Linked DNA regions of Homo sapiens. The protein of the gene in region 1 purifies or fractionates together with the protein of each later gene. This does not show direct contact. Each region holds a gene or a part of one and is shown in the gene's direction. Other genes may lie near its edges.

Region 1 (3,916 bases):
TTTTGAGATGGAGTCTTGCTCTGTTGCCCAGGCCGGAGTACAATGGCGAGGTCTCAGCTCACTGCAGCCTCTGCCTTCTGAGCTCAAGCAATTCTCCTGCCTCAGCCTCCCAAGTAGCTGGGATTACAGGTGTGTGCCACCATGCCCAGTTATTTTTGTATTTTTAGTAGAGACGGGGTTTCACCATGTTGGCCAGGCTGGTCTCAAACTCCTGACCTCAAGTGATCTGCCTGCCTCAGCCTCCCAAAGTGCTGGGATTACAGGCGTGAGCCACCACGCCTGGCCTGCAAACAGACCCTTAAAAGTCATCTGTTCCTACTCTTGTTATTTAAGTTGCTTTGATACTCCACCCCTGAAGAACTTTTATGGGGCACTTACCATGTGTCAAGCATTGTGGCGAGTGCTTATAGAGAAGGTGGGACTTTCTGAGGGAGCCCACAAAAAAGCATTCTTTTCTTGCCCTCATTCTGAATAAATTGAGGAATAAAAAATAGGAGCTACAGATGGAGACCCCAAGTCTGGCCAGTTCTATTACTGATAAAGACAGGAGGGTGAGAGCTAGGTGGACCCAGCCAGGAAGCAGACCTGGGCAGTTGTAGCCTCTATCTCCTTCCCCCTCTGCCCTTGAGTCTAGAAGGAAGCCCGCTCCCAGGAGAAAAATAGCGCCCAGGCTACACATGCCTAGTTTATTCTTCCCAAATCAACCAGTTGCATAAATCACTCCTCTATCTTCCTTGGGGTGGAAAGTGGATGGGAGTTATAATTTGAGTTCTCTTTTGTCTTAGTCCATTGAAGCTGCTATTACAAAATACCATAAACTGGGTGGCTTATAAACAGCAGAAATGAGGCCGGGTGCGGTGGCTCATGCCTATAATTCCAGCACTTTGGGAGGCCAAGGCAGGTGGATCACCTGAGATCAGTAGTTCAAGACTAGCCTGACCAACATGGTGAAACCCTGTCTCTACTAAAAATACAAAAAATTAGCTGGGGGTGGTGGCGGGCACCTGTAATCCCAGCTACTCAGGAGGCTGAGGCAGGAGAATCGCTTGAACCCAGGAGGCGGAGGTTGCCGTGAGCTGAGATCACGCCATTGCATTTCAGCCTGGGCAACAAGAGTGAAACTCCATCTCAAAATGAAATAAAATAACAGAAATGTATTTCTTAACAGTTCTGGAGGTTGGGTGGGCAGTCCCAGATCAGGACACTGACAGATTCAGTGTCTGATGGGGGCCCACTTTCTGGTGTTACCTGCTGGCTGTGTTCTCACATGGTGGAAGGAACATGGCAACTTTCTGGGGCCTTGTTTTTTAATTTAAAAAAAAAAAATATTTTCCTGGCCCTTGCCTGCTGAAGGAACCTCTTTTATAATGGTACTTAAAAATTTTTTTTTTTGAGATGGGGGTCTCACTCTGTCACCCACGCTGAGTGCAGTATCACAATCTCAGCTCACTGCAACCTCTGCCTCCCTGGCTTAAGCGATCCTCCCACCTCAGCCTCCTGAGTACGTGTGACCATAGGCCCATGGCACAAAGCCCAGCTAATTTTTTGTATTTTTAGTAGAAATGTGGTTTCACCATGTTGCATAGGCTGGTCTCGAACTTCTGAACTCAAGTGATCTGCCTGCCTTGGCCTCCCAAAGTGCTGGGATTCTAGGTATGAGCCACCCTGCTCGGCCTATAATGGCACTTTCCTATCCCATTGATGAGGCTCTACTCTCATGACCTAATCATCTCCCAAAGGCCCTAAGGCCTCCTGATACCATCACCTTTGGGGTTAGGTTTTAACATATACATTTTGGGGGGACACAGACATTTTAGACCATAGCACCTCCATTGAAAGGAAACATTTCTGACACCTGGCTATCTCAAAGGGCCCTTTCAGTTCCCCTGCAGGCTGCATTCCCACATCACCAACAAGAGCAGCGACACTCACTCAGAGGTTAAATAACTTGTCCAGAGTCACAGCAGTAATGAATGACAGAGCTGGGGCTTGAATCCAGGCGTCCTCCTAGAGCCTGGATTCTGTGTAGTGAGTGAAAGCTGACTCCTGGGAGACTTCTGCGTGGTCCTGGTTCTCTCTCCAGACTGCACTGCGCAAGTTTCTCTTCCTGATGGTCCCTAGGGTATTACAAAGACAGTGGCCCTGCCTGTCAGGTGTTTTTATTACCAGATGAGGTCATGGCCTCAGGAACCCTGTGGGAAGCTGAGTTCAGAGTCTTTGAGCAGGCTTTAGGGAGGTTCCAGCTTCCCACCACCAAGCCCCAGGTGGATTCTTACAGACTCTAGCCTCAGGGTGGGGGGTCTGGAAGATGAGGTTGCGGGGTGCGATATTCTGCCCAATTCGCCCCTCCTTGCTCAATCTGTTTCTGCAGGTATTGCTGACTACAGACCCAAGGATGGAGAAACCATTGAGCTGAGGCTGGTTAGCTGGTAGCCCCTGAGCTCCCTCATCCCAGCAGCCTCGCACACTCCCTAGGCTTCTACCCTCCCTCCTGATGTCCCTGGAACAGGAACTCGCCTGACCCTGCTGCCACCTCCTGTGCACTTTGAGCAATGCCCCCTGGGATCACCCCAGCCACAAGCCCTTCGAGGGCCCTATACCATGGCCCACCTTGGAGCAGAGAGCCAAGCATCTTCCCTGGGAAGTCTTTCTGGCCAAGTCTGGCCAGCCTGGCCCTGCAGGTCTCCCATGAAGGCCACCCCATGGTCTGATGGGCATGAAGCATCTCAGACTCCTTGGCAAAAAACGGAGTCCGCAGGCCGCAGGTGTTGTGAAGACCACTCGTTCTGTGGTTGGGGTCCTGCAAGAAGGCCTCCTCAGCCCGGGGGCTATGGCCCTGACCCCAGCTCTCCACTCTGCTGTTAGAGTGGCAGCTCCGAGCTGGTTGTGGCACAGTAGCTGGGGAGACCTCAGCAGGGCTGCTCAGTGCCTGCCTCTGACAAAATTAAAGCATTGATGGCCTGTGGACCTGCTACAGTGGCCTGGTGCCTCATACTCCTCAGGTGCAGGGGCAGGGACAAGAGAAGGGGGAAGTAACCCCATCAGGGAGGAGTGGAGGGTGCCTGAGCCGCCATGTGGGCATTGGGGGAGTGATGGGAATGCCAGCAGTGATGACATTGACTACTGACTGAGCACCCACTACTATGACTGAGCACTCACTCGCTAGATACTATCTTGAACTGCTCTGTGAGGTTGTTGATATTTTCATTTTTATCTGTGCTTTACAAATCAGGAAACTGGGAGGCCGGGCATGGTGGCTCACGCCTGTAATCCCAGCACTTTAGGAGGCCAAGGCAGGTGGATCACAAGGTCAGGAGTTTGAGATCAGCCTGGCCAACATGGTGAAACTCCATCTTTACTAAAAATACAAAAAATTAGCCAGGCATGGTGTTGCATGCCTGCATGCCTGTAATCCCAGTTACTTGGGAAGCTGAGGCAGGAGAATTGCTTGAACCCTGGAGGCGGAGGTTGTAGTGAGCCGAGATCACGCCATTGCACTCCAGCTTGGGCAAGAAGAGAAACACTCTCAAAAAAAAAAAAAAATCAGGAAACTGGTGCTCAAAAAGGAAAAGTGACTCACCAAGGTCACAGACTAGGCAGTGATGCTGGGGGAACCTGGCTCAGGGGACACAGACCTGGCCTGGGGCAGCCTTGCAGCTCCTCCACTAAAATACTGAAAATGAGGGGCTTCGATGATGGTTATAATCGTATGGCAGAGCCCCAACTCAACTGGAGCCCTGGGACCCAGAAGCTAGGGTCTCACTCCCTGCTTTTCCACAAGGCACCATTAGGGCATCACCCCAGGCCTCGGCAGCCACGACGCAGGGATCCTGCCTCTCATTGGTTGGGGGCTTAGGGGCTCTGGGCTGCCCTCTTGAAGAGGGGGTTCAGCCCAGCGAGGCACCCCCTATGCTGC
Region 2 (3,818 bases), on another chromosome or scaffold:
CGGTACTCTGCTGGTTAATGCAGAGCAGGACTCATCACCATATCTCTTGACTGCCTTTTTTATCACACCCTGTGGCTGCCAAATAGTGGTTAAGAGCACAGACTGAGACTGCTGAAAATGAAGAAGGGAGCAGGGAGGAAAGAGAAGAGAAAAATGGCAAAGGTAGTAGGAGGACCCTGTGTTGTTCAGCTCCATAGTCCCAAGGCCAAGAACAGTTCCTAGCATGTCAATATATGATAAATATCTGTGGAGCAGATGAATAGAAAAGACCATGAAGGGAGCAGGGTTTTGTAGTTTTAGCAAGTGAGTCCTTGCCAGAGATTATACTCCCTCTTCACCCTCCTCTTCACTTCGGAGCTAGACTTTAGGAGGTAAATGGATTATCCAGCTACTATGTCCTGTTTCTTACCAACTTCTCTGATTCTTAAATCTTGAAGTCACAAATTAACTTGGGGACCATGTCTGGACTTCAAGAGTTTTAGGACTCCCTTGAAATTATGTGAGGATATGTGCATTTTTCTGGGAAGGAGAGAGGGTTGGTTCATAGTTCTTAACAGATTATCAAGGAATCCATGATGCCTCACATGTCAAGACCCTCTGCTACTTGGAACATCACTAGAAATTCTTCCACATACAGTCGTCAGGTTTTTAAGCCCTTTGGTTTTTGTGCATTTTTTTTAAATTAAATATTATACTGGGCTGTACAGAGCATACATAACAAAGGTCATGTAGCTGTTTTAGTGAGTCGTGACTACCTAGCCTCACAGTTATGAGCACCAGTGATTATAGAAGCCACATGAACTTTCCTAAAAGGGAAATCATTCCCTGGGATTTGACTATAGTGACCTGAACAACATACCCTTCAAGACCAAATGCAAGCAAAGAAGGGCCAAGTACCCCCCAACCCTAAAGGTACAGAGGGGACCAGCCCTGGATGACCTAGATGCTGCAGTACCCAGTATACCCCTCCTCCGCTGTCACGTCACCAGTGAATTGTCCACTTGTGCAGAGTCATTGCATTGGGTCCTAGTCCTGCTCACCTTTCAGGGATTGGGAACAGTTTTCTAATACAGGCCACACAGTTTTATGTCACGTGTTTCTTTTATAGGACAAGTCCAGAACGAGATCCTCTCATTCTTCTGTCTCGGAAAAACCCAAAACTTGTTGATGCAGAATACACCAAAAACCAGGCCTGGAAATCTATGAAAGTAATCACCAGTCATCTGACTAGAACTACAGCAGTGAACATTCTCACTCAAAGAACATTGCCACCTGGGTAGAATTTGAGATTAGGTTTCCTGTCAGTGGTGAGGTGAATGTAAAGAAAGTTCCATGAACCAGCATTAGCATATATGTAAATTCTCCTTTTTCAAACTTACATTGCTTTTCTGGCCATATTATGACTAGTATATTGCACTACTTTGAAGGTTTAAACCAGGGGTCACAAACTTTTTCCAGGAAGGGCCAAATAGTAAATGTTGTAGGTTTTGCAGGTCGTATGGTCTCTATTGCAGTTGCCAACAGACATGGGCAGTTTGTAAATGAATGAGCCTGGCAGTGTTTTTATTAAAACTTTATTACGGCCAGGCATGGTGGCTCATGCCTGTAATCCTAGCACTTTGGGAGGCGAGGCGGGTGGATCACTTGAGGTCAGGAGTTCAAGACCAGCCTGGCCAACATGGTGAAACCCCGTCTCTACTAAAAACACAAAAATTAGCCGGGCATGGTGGTATGTGCCGGTAGTCCCAGCTACTGGGGAGGCTGAGGCAGGAGAATCGCTTGAACCTGGGAGGCAGAGATTGCAGTGAGCCGAGATCACGCCATTGCACTCCAGCCTGGCGACAGAGCAAGACTCCGTCTCAAAAATAAGTAAATAAAAATAAAAATAATAAAAAATAAAAACTTTATGGGCACTGAAATTTGAATTTCATGTAATTTTAAGTTGTCATAAAATATTATTCTTTTGCCTTTTTTTTTAACCATTTGAAATGTAAAAATTTCTTAGTCCATGACAAAAACAAGCAGTGGGTCAAATTTGGCCTGTGGGTCGTAGTTTGCCAACCCCTGGTTTAAATCAATGGTCTCAACCCTGGCTGTGCAATACAACCAGAGAGCTTAAGAAAATGAATCAAATGAGTCAGAATCTCTGGGAATGGTGTCCAGGAATCTTCATTTGTTTAAAACTTTTCAAGTGATTCTAAGGTGAAGCCAGAAATGGGACCGTTGGTTTACAGTCCACTCTCTCCTCTTAACTCTATGGCTTTTTGCCTTAATCAAAGAAATTAAAGCCCTAAACTTCCTTTATATGAAATTTCCATATACCATATGAGGATGCTATGAGGAAAAGCTTTAGACTTCTTGGGAGAAAACTAAGTAAATCTGAGGTGCATGTATTATTTCATACAGTTTTAATCAGGAGCAAGTGAGCTTAAGAAACTTTGTTGAATAATAAAAATATGAAAAAATGTGTTCATTTAGAACAAAAGTTGTTAGCATCTACTGTGGGAGGCTGCAGAAGCAAACAAAACTTGTCCCCTCATCAAGGAGTTTACCATCTGCTAAGGTGGATGGAATGTACCTGGGGATGTCAAACTCAGATGTCCCCAGGGGCCAGCAGGTGATGTCAAGAGGTGAGCAAGAGAGAATACTAACAGTTCCAAATGTTAATAAGAGCCCAGTTTGCCAGATCTTCCTTTTTATTCTCCAAGAAAGACTGGAAATCTGGATTTTTGCAAGAAATATCCTACCACCTGTAAATGTTGGCAATGATTTGATTTAAAAAAAAAAATACTTTGCATGCCCAACAAAATTTGAGCATGGGCTATATACACCCCTAAGGCCATCAGCCAGCACTTGGGACCTTCTCTGCATACATTATTTACACAGAGTGAAGTGTGCTGCAGGCTGTGACATCTGAATTCAAAGGAGGGCAACATGGCTTTAGGTGTGCTTAAACTTTAAAATCAGACGGGCCCTGGTTAAAACTCTGTCTTCTATTTAGAGCCACACTGACCTTGAGCAAATCTCAACTTCCAAAGCCTTGGCTTCTGCATTTATATAATGGGAATAATAATGTCTCCTGAGTATATTGATTATGAAGCTTAAATGAGGTAATGTTGATGAAATGTTTAACAATGCTTGCTGCACAGTGATCACAATAAATGCTGTTGCTGTTAATACTAATAACTTCCTTTCCACTTAAAGGATACCTTAGGAAAGCCAGCTGCTAAGGATGTCCATCTTGTGGATCACTGCAAATACAAGTAAGATTTGCAGGACTCCTCACTTTCTTGGTTTCCATACTGCTTTTGAAATAGCTTCACTTTGGGTGAGAACTTTAATATAAAGGCCCAGCTGGAGTAAATGAAAGTTGCATTAATTCATTTCACTGGCTTTTCCTCAGGGCCTAAATGCACTGACCTGAGTTCTGTGGCGACTGTAGAGAAGAATGGAACATGGTTCCTGCTTCCAAACAGCTGCATGCTAGCTAGTAATCACAGTAATGGAATTACCTCTCCATATGCCCCACCCACCCAATCATTGAAGTTAGAATAAATATTTCTCAGTTAATAAATATTAGAATTATTATCCTGGTGTGCTGGCATGCTCCTGTAGTCTTAGCTACTCGGGAGGCTGAGGTAGGAGGATCCTTTGAGCCCAAGAGTTCAAGACCAGCCTGGGCTACATAGTGAGACCCTGTCTCTAAGAGAAATAAAATAAAATTCTGGGACTAAGAATTAGATGAACAGGTAAAACCAGGTCTAGAGGAGGGCAGTGGTGGTGGGGGTGGCTCAGAGTTAGGAGTGCTAATGACACGC

What was found.
Region 2: the proteins of TCN2 (region 1) and POGLUT1 purify together in Homo sapiens (affinity purification with mass spectrometry; one large-scale study listed by BioGRID and IntAct). This does not show direct contact.

The regions. Positions count from the first base shown.
Region 1 is NC_000022.11:30,624,089-30,628,004, forward strand, and holds the end of TCN2 (transcobalamin-2 isoform 1 precursor), read left to right. Parts: intron 1-2,371; coding exon 2,372-2,433; 3' UTR 2,434-3,183; downstream 3,184-3,916. UniProt on the Homo sapiens protein: Primary vitamin B12-binding and transport protein. Delivers cobalamin to cells.
Region 2 is NC_000003.12:119,485,725-119,489,542, forward strand, and holds part of POGLUT1 (protein O-glucosyltransferase 1 precursor), read left to right. Parts: intron 1-1,108; coding exon 1,109-1,208; intron 1,209-3,204; coding exon 3,205-3,263; intron 3,264-3,818. UniProt on the Homo sapiens protein: Dual specificity glycosyltransferase that catalyzes the transfer of glucose and xylose from UDP-glucose and UDP-xylose, respectively, to a serine residue found in the consensus sequence of C-X-S-X-P-C.